Regions from separate parts of the Homo sapiens genome. Here all the other regions are linked to region 2. The links come from fine-mapping of genetic effects on gene expression. A gene starts in region 2. Each other region holds a variant in brackets. All regions are shown on one strand. Distances are from middle to middle. Region 1 overlaps PELATON (plaque enriched lncRNA in atherosclerotic and inflammatory bowel macrophage regulation). Region 2 holds the start of PELATON (plaque enriched lncRNA in atherosclerotic and inflammatory bowel macrophage regulation). Region 3 has its middle 10 kb from the start of LINC01270.

Region 1 (4,116 bases), 9.5 kb before region 2:
AGGAAACAGCCAGTGCAAAGGGCCCGGGGCAGTGTGGGCCTCAGGCTGTTTCAGGAGCAAGGAGGAAGCCAGCATGGCTGGAGGGTGAGTGAGGAGGAAGGCTGGGAGAGGAGACAGAGGGAGGTCAGAGAGGAGGCCCCGAGAGCCAAGGAAGGAATCCGAGGGTTTATTCTCCAAGCAACAGAGATCCCTTAGAGAGGACTTTGCTGTGGACTGATGTGGGCTGGCCCACAGTTTTAATAGCTCCCTCTGGCTGAGTGTGGAGAGGGGATTTCTGGAAGACCAGGGAAGAGACTTCTGTGCCAGCAGAGATGAGCAGCAGTGGTGGCAGTGGAGGCAGAAGGAAGGGCTTGGGTCGGGGGTCTGTTTGCAGGAGCTGCTGGGAGGACCTGCCGAGGGAGAGAAGGGAAGAGGGCATGGGTGGGGGTTGAACAGAGACCCCCTCCACCCTCCAGGCCTCAAGGAGCCCCACAGGAAGTGGGTGGTCAGGCGGCCCAGCTGGGAAGGCTGACTGGTTTGTCCAGCCTGAAGCCCACGACCCTCTCCCCACCCTCTGCCCATGGCAGCCCAGGGCTAGAAATGTACCTGGAATGTCAGCCATGAAGCCCGGCCAGACAGTGCCCATGGGACCTGCTGGGGGCCAGGTGAGCACCCTGGCCACAGCCCTGCCTACAAGGGTAATCTCTCGGACCCATTGACCAGGGTAAGTGGTAATTACAGGCCCTGGAGCAGAGAGGGTGGTGACCTCCAGCCAAGACACGCAGGGACTGCGATTCGCACGCAGGACCCCTAACGAGGCACACCCTCTTTGTTGCTGAACAGGCAACAAACTGCCCCAGAGACCAGGGCGTGTCAGCAGAAAGAGCACTGGGCTATGAGTCTGAGACCCCCAGGGCCTTCTCTGAACCTTAGCCCCCTCATCTGCCAAAGAAATACTTATCCATGCACGCACGCTTGCATTGCTTCCCAAGTGTTTACTGGGCACTTGTCCTGGACAGGCGCTGTGCTGGGGGCTGGGTGTACAGCAGTGAACAAAACACACAAAAATCCCCACCTGGGCGATGGTGACATTCCACTGGAAAGAGACAGACAAGAAACAGGATATACCAGCAGGTTAATTTCTAGGATACGTGCTAAGTCCTAGGAAGAAATAAAAACAGCATGAGGCCATAGGAATGAGGGGCTGGTCAGAGAAGGTGTCCCCAGGGGTGACTTTGGAGCAGAGGCCTGACCCTAGACAAGGATCCGCCATGGGGAGAGCTGGCGAGAGTGTCCTCTGTTCCAGAGGGAAGAGTGGGTGCGAAGTCAATGAGGCAGCAGCAGGATAATTGGCAAGTTTATGGCAGAGAGATGAGGCCACCGTGGCTGTGGGTGAACAGAGAAGGGAGAGGCAGTGAGGTCAGGCGGGGCCAGGGCAGAGATCCTGCAGGCCCTGTGGGCTTCTGCTCTGAGTGAGTTGGGAGCCATAGAGGGTTCTGAGCAGAGAAGGGATAGGATCTAACTTGAGCTCTTACAGAATTCCTCTGGCTTAGGAAGGCGAGAGAGGAGGCAGGGAGACCAATGAGGAGACGACTGCAAACATCCTAGCTGGACCAGGGCAGGGCAGGGTAGTGGGGGTGGACCCTTGGACATGTGGATGAGTTTGCTGATGGGCTGACCATGGGAACAAGAGGGAGAACCCAGGTTGGGGGCCTGGGCAGCCAGGTGGCTGAGGTTGCCATCGCTGTAGCAGGGAAACTGCAGGTTTGTGGTGGGGGTAGACAGAGCTCCCTCTGAGCATGAGGCCCCACCCAGAGTAAAAGAAGGACTCCCAGTCCACACACCCCTGCCTCAAGCACAGATCAGTGAAGGGATTCTGTGGACAGGTGGCCCTGGAAGCTGTGATCTGCAGGGGCGAGGTGCCTGCTGTCTACCTGGTGAAAGTCCTACCAATGCAGCTCTTGAGGCTGCCCAGTCTCACACCCCAGGGAGCAAACTTGGCACCTGTTCTTTGCCCTACCCTGAACATCCGCTGGGCTCCCGGGGTTGGTCCCGATGTTCATTTGGAATCTCAGGGGTGATGGGTGGGGAAGGTGGAAAAACGCTGTACCTCTTTCCCACCCATCCCTGTCCCCCGTCAGCCAAACAGGGCTGAGGACTCGCGATCATTCTTCCTCTGCG[C/T]CCCTGTCCCCATACCTCTCAGAGACAGCGTGACTTGTGGCCTCTGCAGCCAGGAACGTGCTCTGGTCCCGTCATCTCACACTGCCCCATCCCCCTCATAGTCACTTGGTTTTCTGCACGTAAGTTCCCTTTTCATAGATGGAGGAACTGAGGTTCCGAGAGGTGGGGCAGGCTCCCAAGTTCACACTCAGGTTAAGTGGCAGGGGCGGGATTCACACTCAGGTCCATCTGATTCCAAAGCTCTTAAGCCCTGAGCATTATAGCTGCTGGCTTAGGTCGGCTCCCAGAAGCTGACCCAAGACAAGGTTTTGGGTGCAAGTGGGATATTTGGGAGGTGATTCTAGAAACACTGGGAAGGAGTGAGGAAGTGACACAAGGAAGGTAGATGAGCAGGTCTCCTCAGTGGGCAACAGGAGCCCAACCCCCTAGAGGCCTCTGGGACAACTCGCAGAAAGTACCTTCCCACTGTCCCCTGAGCCAGAAGCAAGGAAGCTGAGTGGGGGGACAAACAGACCCCACCTCTACTGGCAGGGGTCTCTCACTTGCTTCCCACACTCTTGTGGCCAGAGGAAGCCCTTGGGCAAGAGATTCAGGATAGCAGCTGCAAGGGCGACCTCCCAGGTGGGCACCAACAGCTTCTGAGCCCCCCAACTTCCAGGACAGCACTCACCCCAGAGAACAGGATGATGTTCAGTAGGATGTGACTGTGCTGCGTGACCTTGGCAAGTAGCTTCATCTCTCAGAGCCTCAGTTTTCTACTCTGAAGAAAGGAATCATTAAAAAAAAACAAAAAAAAAACTGTTTCACAAGGGTTGCCGGGGATTCGATGGGACATGAGGTAAAGGTCTGAGAATCACACGTGGCACATAGGAGGTGCGTTTTATGTATTTGTGGTTAAATGAGAGCATGCCTGGTGCATAGAAGCCACTCCACTATAACAGCTATTATCATTATTATTATAGTTTTGTTGTTGTTGTTGTTTAGGACCTCTCCAAGACTGCGCAAGCCTAGGTCTGCTCTGTGGGGACAAGATGGTGGCTGGACAACCTCCCCAGTTTCCTGGGTCCCACAGCCTCTTGCTTAAGGCTGCCTGAACTTTGGGGAAACAGAGGAGGAGGAGAAGGAGGAGGAAGGGGCGGAGGCTTAGGCCAGGCCTGCTAGAGGTAACCGCGGGCAGTGACCCCGCCTGAGAGGCCCCCATTCACCCGTCCACCCATCGCCAGAGCTGCCTGCCCATTCCACACAGGGGACGCCTCGTCTTGCACAACACAGGAAGGAGGAGGCCTGGGTGGCGGTGGGTGACGCCGGGACCCCGTGTCCACCCGGCTGCAGACAGGATGGGCAAGGGAGGCCCCGCCAGGCTTCCTGTGTGCCGAGCACACTGGGCAGAAAGGAGAAGTGGGGTCCAAGGTCACTGGGAGCTCTGGGCAGCACCTTCCCCTCCCTGGCCCAACTGTTCCGCCTGTTCTCCCTGACTCAGGCACCCAGGGTTCAAACCCCACCAGCTCGGCCATGTACCAGCTGCATGACTCTGGAACACGCAGCTCTCAGGGCCTCTGTGTCAGTCACTGCCAGGGTGCGGGGAAGCCCTCTGGGGGCTTGTCATCATCATCCCCATTTCACAGATAAGGAAACCAAGGCCATGGGGTATTTTCTCTCTCTCTTTTTCTCCTTTTTTTTTTTTTAAGACAGATGGGGGGTCTTGCCCTGTTGCCCAGGCTGGAGTGGAGTGGCACAGTCATAGCCCACTTCAGCCTCAATCTCCTGGGCTCAAGCAATTCTCCCACCTCAGCCTCTCAAGTAACTGGGACTACAGGCGTGCACCACTACACTCAGCTAGTTCTTTTTTTTTCCCCTCTAGAGATGGGTTCTCACTCTGTTGCCCAGCCTGGTCTGGAACTCCCGGCCTCAAGCGATCCTCCCACCTCGGCCCACCATCATAAGGTATTTTCAAAC
Region 2 (4,116 bases):
GGGAGGCTGAGGTGGGTGGATCACCTGAAGTCAGGAGTTTGAGACCAGCCTGGCCAACATGGTGAAAATTCATCTCTACTAAAAATACAAAAAATTAGCTGGGAGTGGTGGCCCACGCCTGTAATCCCAGCTATGTGGGAGGCTGAGGTAGGAGAATCGCTTGAACCCAGGAGGCGGAGGTTGCAGTAAGCCGAGATCGTGCCATTGCACTCCAGCCTGGGCAACAGAGCAAGACTCTGTCTCAAAAAAAAAAAAAAAAAAAAAAGTGAGATCCTGGAGGAGAAAGTCCCCTTTTCTGTTCATCTCTTCCTAGTTAGGATGTGATCATGTGGGACGTGATGTCTTGAGCCACAGCAGGCACTGGGGCCCATGAAGAAAGAGAAGTGAAGAGATGCCTACCTAGAGCGCAGGGAGCCTGCCCTGGAACACTGGAATGGCCCCACGTTAGACTTCATGTTATAAGATTTAATTAATATTTTTACTGTTGCAGTCATAGAAGATGGCCTAATTGGGGCAAGAGGAAACATAGGAATGAACCTGAGACAGGGGAGAAAATGGAGAGAGGAGGGATGAGAGCTGGAAGGGGGTCAGAAACACCCAAGCACGGGGTTCAGATGCACAGCAGGCTCCCTAAGTGTGAGTTGCTGTTTCTGCAAACAGGAGTTGTTCCCTGAGCACCTACTCTCTACCAGGTACATTTCCAAGCCCTGGGTGTCCATCAAGTCCTTTAATCCTCCCAGCAGTGCCAGGGAGGCTTCATCTGCTCCCCACATCTCTGCTTCCCCCGCCCCATGTTCAGATTCTAAAAAACCAAAAGGGCTCCCTCTAATTCATCTCGCCCCCAGAGAGCACTGACTCCCCACGGTGTCCCACTGAGCCCCACTGAGTCCAGTCCACCTCAACTTTCCTGCCTCTGGGAACAGGGTACCCACCCTCTGAGGGCCCCACTTCCCAAAGTTCTTTGTCCTGGCACAGCAGGTGCTGAGTAGCTCCCTGGACCTCTGTTTCCGCATCTGTAAAAAGCCACTAATCCTAATTGCACCTCCTAGGCTGATTGTGATGACCCAGGAAGGACCCTTGACCCAGTGTCTGGCCTGTAGTAGGGCTCGGTAAGCGTGAAATCTGATTATTGCCCATTATATTTATGGTTATACACAGGGCTGGCCCTGCCTCCTGCTGGAGCCGTGGGTCTGTCCAGGTTGAGAAGCTGAGGTGCTTGGAGCGTCCCCAGATCCCAAACAGGGAGCTGGAGTAGGAGGCGGGAGCATGAAGTCTCCTGGGCCCCGCCCGCCACCTCGCCCTGCCGCCCCTGCTCAGCAGCCGCCCCGCCCTGCCACCTTGGTCTCTGAGAACCCATTGTTCCTACCTGGCTCTGCTCCAGGGTCCTGGCCTTGCCACTTTCCTCTAGGATCCCCCGCCACCCCCGGGGCTTGGGCCTCCCCGCGGGGTCCTAAATTGGGTGCCAGATGTGGCAGCTGTCCAGCAATGGGAACAGGAGCTGGAACCCCAGCTCTGCCACATCCCAGCTGTGTGACCTTGGGCGCTTCCCCTCTCTGAGCCTCAGCTTCCTTGTTGGTTAAATGGGATGACGGGACCTCACAGGGCTGTCATGAGGGTTTCGTGAGCCCAGGATGGCAGAGTGCCCAGCATGTGGTAGGGCTCGGGAACATTCATCCTAATTTCTCTGCTCCTCACGGGCCTAGAGGAAGAGCCAGGAACATCAGAGGCAGTGGCCAGAGTGGGTAGAGCACTGGAAGGGGAGTCTAAGGCCAGGGTCCCGGCTCCAACCCTGCTGTGTGACCTCGGGCAGGCTGTGGGTATCTCTGGGCCCCAGAATGAGGGAAAGAAGTAGCTGGGATCCTCCTTCCTCCCCAGGAAGCAAAGCAGAGGGGTGGTGCCAAGTTTTCTTTTCATTTTTTTTATTTTCAGCACAAAGGGCTCAAATGGAAAGCAGCTGCAGAGACAGAGAATCCGATTGTGAAGGCACCCGAGACTCCAGGCAGGCGGAAGAGGCAGCGTCTTGGGTGCTGGGCTGGGTAACAGAGGCCAGGGTATTGACCAGAAACTCCAACAAGCAGGGGACAGCTTGGGGGGTGGGGGGTTGTCTCCCACCCCTTCTTCAGGGTGCTGGCCTAGGAGACAGGGACCCCGCCTCGGGCATCTCCTGCTTAACCTCAGTTTCTGTGTCCAGACATGGGCAGGCCATCCTGACTCTCTTAGCCTTGGTTTCCATCTCCAAAATGTGTCCAGTAGTGGCACCTTCCTTCTAGGGAGGGGTTGTGTGGTTAAGGTCTCGGGGCGGGCTCCTCAGTCAAACAGGCTTGGCTTTGATCCTGCCTCTGCCTCTCACTAACTGTGTGACCTGGAGTAAGCCACCTCCCCTCCCTGTGCCTTGATTTTCCCATCTGTGAAATGGAAACAATAATAGAACTAATCTGCTGGGGAGATGAACTGAGAAGACTCAGCCTGGTGCCTGGAGCAGAGTAAAGACTAATGATTATTGTTGTCTTTCTTTTTGGAGGCAGAGTCTCACTGTGTTGCCCAGCCTGGAGTGCAGTGGCAGTGGCGCGATCTCGGCTCACTACAAGCTCCACCTCCCAGGTTCAATCATTGACCCTCCAGCCTCAGCCTCCCGAGAAGCTAGGACTATAGGCTCACACCACCAGGCCCAGCTAATTTTTTGTATTTTTAGTAGAGACCAGGTTTCACCATGTTGACCAGGCTGGTCTTGAACTCCTGGCCTGAAGTGATCTGCCTGCCTTAGCCTCCCAAATTGCTGGGATTCCAGGTGTGAGTCACCGCGTCCAGGCATCTTTCTTATTATTATTATCCCAGGAGCTCCACCTGCTAAGGCCCCAGCCTCAGAAAGCCTCCCTTCCCCTGAGTGCTGGTTCATCTCAACAATTTCCTCACATATTTCTTGAGCAGCAACTATACCGGTCTTGGCAAAGCCAAGGTTCTATCTAGGAGAAGAAAGACATTAAATGAAGGACCCGTGTGTGAAGGGCTTGGTGAGTAGCAGGGGCTCATTGACACTGTTCACCAGCACCTGCCCCCTCAGCTGCTCTGTGCTGGACTCTTTCTGGGCTCTGGGGACACAGTCTTCAGGGGAGTCCCAATCAGAGGGTCTGGGTGGAGGTGAGAAGCTGGTGTGTGGATGAGGCAGTTTCTCACACTGTGGCAAGGTCTGTGATGGAGGAAGTCCAGGTGACTTTGGGAGCTAGAGGTCAGGATGGGCTTCCTGGAGGAAGTGGTTAGGAATGAAAATAACATCTATTCAGCATTATTATTATGATGTGTCAGGCACTGTTCTCTCCTCAACACCCCGCTCCAGAAGGTTTTCTTCTCACACACCCATTCTACAGGTGAGTCTGGGATCAAAGAGGCCCAGTAGGGTGTCAGAGGTCACGTAGCCAAGACATGGCAGAGCTGAGATGAAACCCCGCAGTGGGACACTGCCCCACTTGCCCCCCGACAGCGCTCTCCAGCCTCCAGGCCTTTGCTCCAGCTCTTCCTTCTGCCCAGACATTCCAGACCCTGCACCGTCTCATATCCACTCTGCTGGAGGAATGAAGAGAACAGCCCTTGGAGGCCGCAAAGTGTCCTCAAGCCTCAGTTTTCCCATCTATGAAATGGGGATAGCATGGGGCTTTCCTCTCGGGCTGCAGAAAGGATCGAGAAAAGGCTTATTATTCACCTAGGGCCTAGCCCTTGGGAACCAGTCCGGAAGGACAGCTGTTATTATTGCTAATGCTGTTCCTATCACAGTGACAGCGTGTCCCGTTAGGCCTGCAAACCCCTATACCTCAGTTTTTCCTGTAATGAAACCTGCCTGCTGAGGCCTCGGTGAGGGCTCATTTAATGATAATCTTTAGGGAAAAAAAATACACCCCCCAAGCCGCCTGTGTGGCTGCAGCCCACAGGGGTAACCTGACGCCCCTCGCCTGACCTGGCCCCCAGGTCTTTGTGTGAGTCCTGCCCAGATTACTGTATTTGTCCAAACCCAAAGCCAAGGCTGGCATGAGCTCAATGCTCTGCATTGTGCCAGAGCCAGGCCCCCCAGGCCTCATCCCTCCTCCCGCTGGGGATCCGGCCCCCAGGAGGTGTCACAGGGGA
Region 3 (4,116 bases), 16 kb before region 2:
GCTTACTAAGGGTCGGGCGTGGAGCTAAGCACTTTCCATTCATTCATTCATTCATTCATTCATTCATTTATTCTGCAACTATGGACTGAGCACTTTCTTGTACGAGGTGCTTTGTTGGGATCTGGGGACACAGTGATGACCAAGAGAGACAAAGATGGAGCTGCCACCCAGGAGCGGGTAGACAAAACAAGCAGGAACCATGATGAGTCAGGTAGCACTGAGAGATGCAGGGAGGAATTCAGTAAGGAGGGAGTGTCAGGGGCAGGAAAGGCCTCATGAGCTGCGACGTTTGAGCAGAGACTTGAAGGAGGTGCAAGGGCCGGCCCAAGCAAAGGGAAGGGCGCAGGTGGAGGCCCTGGGTGGGGCATGCCCGGTGCATTTGAGGACCAGCCAGAGGGCCAGCATGGCGGGGGCAGAGTCAATCCCTCCAACAGCCAGGGGAGCAGGCACTATATTACCTCCTCTTACAGAAGAGGAAAAGAGGCTCAGAGAGGGGAAGTGACTTGCCCAGAGTCACACAGCCCGGAAGTGGCAGTGTGAGGAGCAGTCACTCCTCGCAGTCAGGATGTGCCGGGGTGCATCCATGCCATCGGTGGCCCTGTGTGTGTGACGAGGCTGCACGGCCCAAGGGTGGCTCCCAGAAAGCGTGTGTCACCTGCCTTGGTCACAGCTGTGGGTGGTATGATTGTGCAATCCAGCACCCTGCAGGGAGCCAGGGGCCGGGACAGAGGCTGGGCCGGGACTTGACACAGCCCTGACTCCACCCCAGGCTCAGCCCTGCCATCACTCTGCCTCCCAAGCCCCATGGGGTCTAGGGGCTACCAGACAGCCAAGAATCCAGGGAGCTCACTCACACTGAGGTGCAAGTGACTGCTAGAAGCCCCTGGTTTGTCCCTATCCCTGGGCTGACCCTTTCAGCAGGTCACAGCAGCAGCTTTGGAGACTCAGTTTCCCCCTCTGTCAGATGACAGGTCCACTTAGTGGGTCTCCAACAGCAGTTGCAGGTTCTTGGGTCCAGAGAGAGCTCCCTGAAGTCACACAACCAGTGGCTGACGGAGTCAGGGTGACCCTGGCCTGCTCACTCCTGCCTGGAGGATGCCTCCCCCTGAAGCTCAGCCACCCAGGCTCCACCACTCTCCCCTCACCCACCCTCTTGCTGCCCACACGTCCAGGCCCTGGCCCACACTGTCCACTCTCCTGGGAGTGCCTTTCCCCTCCCCCTATGAAAAAAGAACACGGGATGGTCAGGGGCGTAGAGGGAGAGATTGTCGAGCAGGCAGAGGCTACTTAAGCCAGGGGAAGGGTCAGAGAAGGTGGCTGTCGAGAGTGGCATCCGAGCTCAGACCTGAAGGAGGTGAGGGAGCCGTGGACATCCATGGTGGACAAGGGCTCCAGGGACCTGCAAAGACCTTGAGGTGGAAAGACCCAGGGCTTCTTGAGGAACAGCAGGAAGCTATCAGGGCTGGAAGGGAGTACGCGAGGGAGAGAGGCAGCGAGGTCATCAGACAAGTGGAGGGTTTGCTGGGGGGCCAGGGTCGCACCCGGCCTCACGGGCCACAGGGAGCTTTCACTCAGAGAGCTGGGATCCCTGGGAGGGTCTGTGCTGGAAGGTATAGGTCCCTTCTGACAGGTCCCTCTGGTCGTGTGTGGAGAACAGACTGTGAGGGGCTGAGGGAGAAAAGGAAGCCAGGAGGAAGTGACTGCACCAGTCCAGGCGGTGGTGCTGGTGGCCGTGGCCGAAGCGGGGGCCGTGGAGGTGGGGAGACGAGGGCAGACTCCGGGTCTACCTTGAAGGTGGAGTCGACAGGATGTGATGAGCGATCAGATGTGGGAGCAAGTGAGAAGAAGAAGGCAGGGGAGACTCCCAGGTTTGGGGGACCACCTGGAGGATGCAGGAGCCATCAG[T/C]AGAGGCAGGACTGGCTTCGGGGGGCAGATCAGGAATGGAGTCCTGGCCAACCTGGGTTTGAGGCTTCTCCTGGTCATCCCAGCAGGGACAGAGACAGGTGGGTGGAGACCCCTGAGTCTAGGCTCAGGGGAGGCCTTGGGGAGGTGCCCTTGGAAGTCGCCAGCATTTAGATGAGGACGAGAACTGTCTTTGGTGTCTGTGTCCCCCTTCTTCCCTCTCATGCTAGCAGCAGGTCCAACCTGGGGAGGAGCTCCAGGGTATCCTAGGGACCCAGGAATAAGTCCATGAGCGTGTGTGACAAATGCCCACCATGGTTCAGGGCCATGCCAAGCGCTTTGCCCACTTGATGCCTTTCATTCTCACGACACCCTGAAGGGGTAGGGACCACCCCAGTCCCGTTTTACAGAGCCAAGAGGTGAAATGATTTACGCAAGTGTCACCCAGCAGTATGGGAAGGCTGCTCTACGGGAGGGTCAGGGAGCGGCACACAAGGCCATCAGGGAAGGCACTGCAGTGCTCAGCAGCGCCGGATCACAACGCCCGCCCCCTGGCTGGGGGACACCCCAGGTTCCTGAGTCTCCCACATCGCCTCCTCCAGGCAGCAGGCAGGATTACCTCTTGGTGATTCTGGGGCCTCCAGAAAAGGGCTGAGGGCAAACCGGGAGCTCCCCAAGGTCAGCAGGGAGGAGGCTGGGGAGGAGCTTGGGGGGAACCTGGGTGTTTTGAGGGCCAGGCAACGTCTCAAGCCAGGTACCTGCAGGCCTCCAGCATGAGGGAGGAAGGGACAAAGACTCCAGGGCATGCTTGGCGGGCAGTGAGATCCCCTCCCCCACTTCCGTGGAGCTCTAGAAAGCATCTCCCTGCCCAGGGTGTTCTCCCACCGATGGCTCGAGGCCATCTTTCATCCCAACGGTGGTGTGTGGCCGGCCGTGGGGTCTCCTGCAATTACCTGGAGGAATCCGCCTTCAAGCAAGCTGAAGTTCACAGCGGGAGCATGATGCACACCACTTGTTCAGCAACTGTTCATGAAGCACCTGCTAGTGGCAGACCTCTCAGCTAAGGTCACCAGAAGGAAGAGGCTTTGGCAAGGTCCAAATTGACCTGAAAATAGGACTCTTTCCATTGACCTGACCTTCAAACAGCATTCCTTCCTCTGCGGGATTCAAATTATCCACTTATGATCCATGCAGGATAGGGAAAGGGAACAGGAGTTGGCAGCTCCCCATGGGGCAGAAGAGGAGGAATAAGACCCAGATATTACGTATGGAGACCCAACCTTGTGGCAGACACTGCGCTCGGACCTCAGTTCCTAATCCATAAAATCAAGCTTATGACATGTCCTTCCTCCAGGGTTGTAATGGGCTAATCCAGGGATTAGCAAACTTTACTGTAAATGTCCAGAGAGTTCATATGTTCAGCTTTGTGGGTTTTAAGGTCTCTCTCACAACTGCTCAACATTGCAGTTGTAGGGTAAAGGCAGCTGTGGACAATATGTAAATGAATGGGCATACTGTGTGCCAATAAAACTTTATTTATAAAAACAGGCTGTGAACCAGATTTGGCCTGGAGGCTGTAGTTTGCTGAACCCTGAGTTAATGGATACAAAACAAAGCACCTGGTGCATAGCAGGTGCTTAATAACGTTTGAGGAATGAGTGAGTGAAATGATCGGGCCTCTTTAACTCTCGCTTTCCCCATCTGCTAGAAGAAATCATTACACTGAGTTATCATCTATTGAGTGCTTTCCAGGCCACACAGGGCTTCAGGAAGCCCAGCACAGCCCTCTCATCGTTCCTCCTCATAAAACCCTGAGATCGGGCTCTCAGTGGTCCCATTTTACAGGAACAAAGGCTAAGGGCCCAAGGCCACATGGCTGGAATGTGGCAAAGCTGGGATTGGAACCCAGGTCTCCAAGACCAGACCTCAGGCTCTCTGAACTGCCTGGCGTTCCAAGGCTATCCCTGGAGTGTGGAGCCGAGACTGGAATGCTGTCCCTGGCTGCAGGGTCTGGCTTCAGATTCCCAGCTCAACCCCAGATGTCAATCCCCTCGTGGGCCCCAACTCCAGGACCCAAGCCAGGGGTCTCTGCCTGCATCCCCTCCTGGGCAGTGGGTCAGATACACAAGGAAGAGAGAAAGAGGTATAGACGAAGACAGGGACTGAGAAATACAAGGAGACAGAAAGAGGCAGAAACAGAGAGACACAGAGAGA

What was found.
Region 1: its variant is fine-mapped to the expression of PELATON in blood mononuclear cells (TOPMed, PIP above 0.99). The same link has a PIP of 0.9 or more in monocytes, monocytes after LPS and whole blood.
Region 3: its variant is fine-mapped to the expression of PELATON in whole blood (TOPMed, PIP above 0.99).

The regions. Positions count from the first base shown.
Region 1 is chr20:50,274,450-50,278,565 of GRCh38, reverse strand. PELATON (plaque enriched lncRNA in atherosclerotic and inflammatory bowel macrophage regulation) reads right to left here. Exons shown (of 4, transcript NR_170992.1): 2 at 2,831-2,915; 3 at 953-1,075; 4 at 1-389. Among named protein-coding and RNA genes, the nearest start is that of PELATON, 9.0 kb to the right of the region's middle. RefSeq lists enhancers at 557-1,094, 2,939-3,438, 3,439-3,940. The variant C/T (reference allele first, on the strand shown) is at 2,161.
Region 2 is chr20:50,264,914-50,269,029 of GRCh38, reverse strand. It overlaps PELATON (plaque enriched lncRNA in atherosclerotic and inflammatory bowel macrophage regulation), which reads right to left and starts at 1,552. Exons shown (of 4, transcript NR_170992.1): 1 at 1,367-1,552.
Region 3 is chr20:50,280,605-50,284,720 of GRCh38, reverse strand. No RefSeq gene overlaps it. Among named protein-coding and RNA genes, the nearest start is that of LINC01270, 10 kb to the left of the region's middle. The variant T/C (reference allele first, on the strand shown) is at 1,906.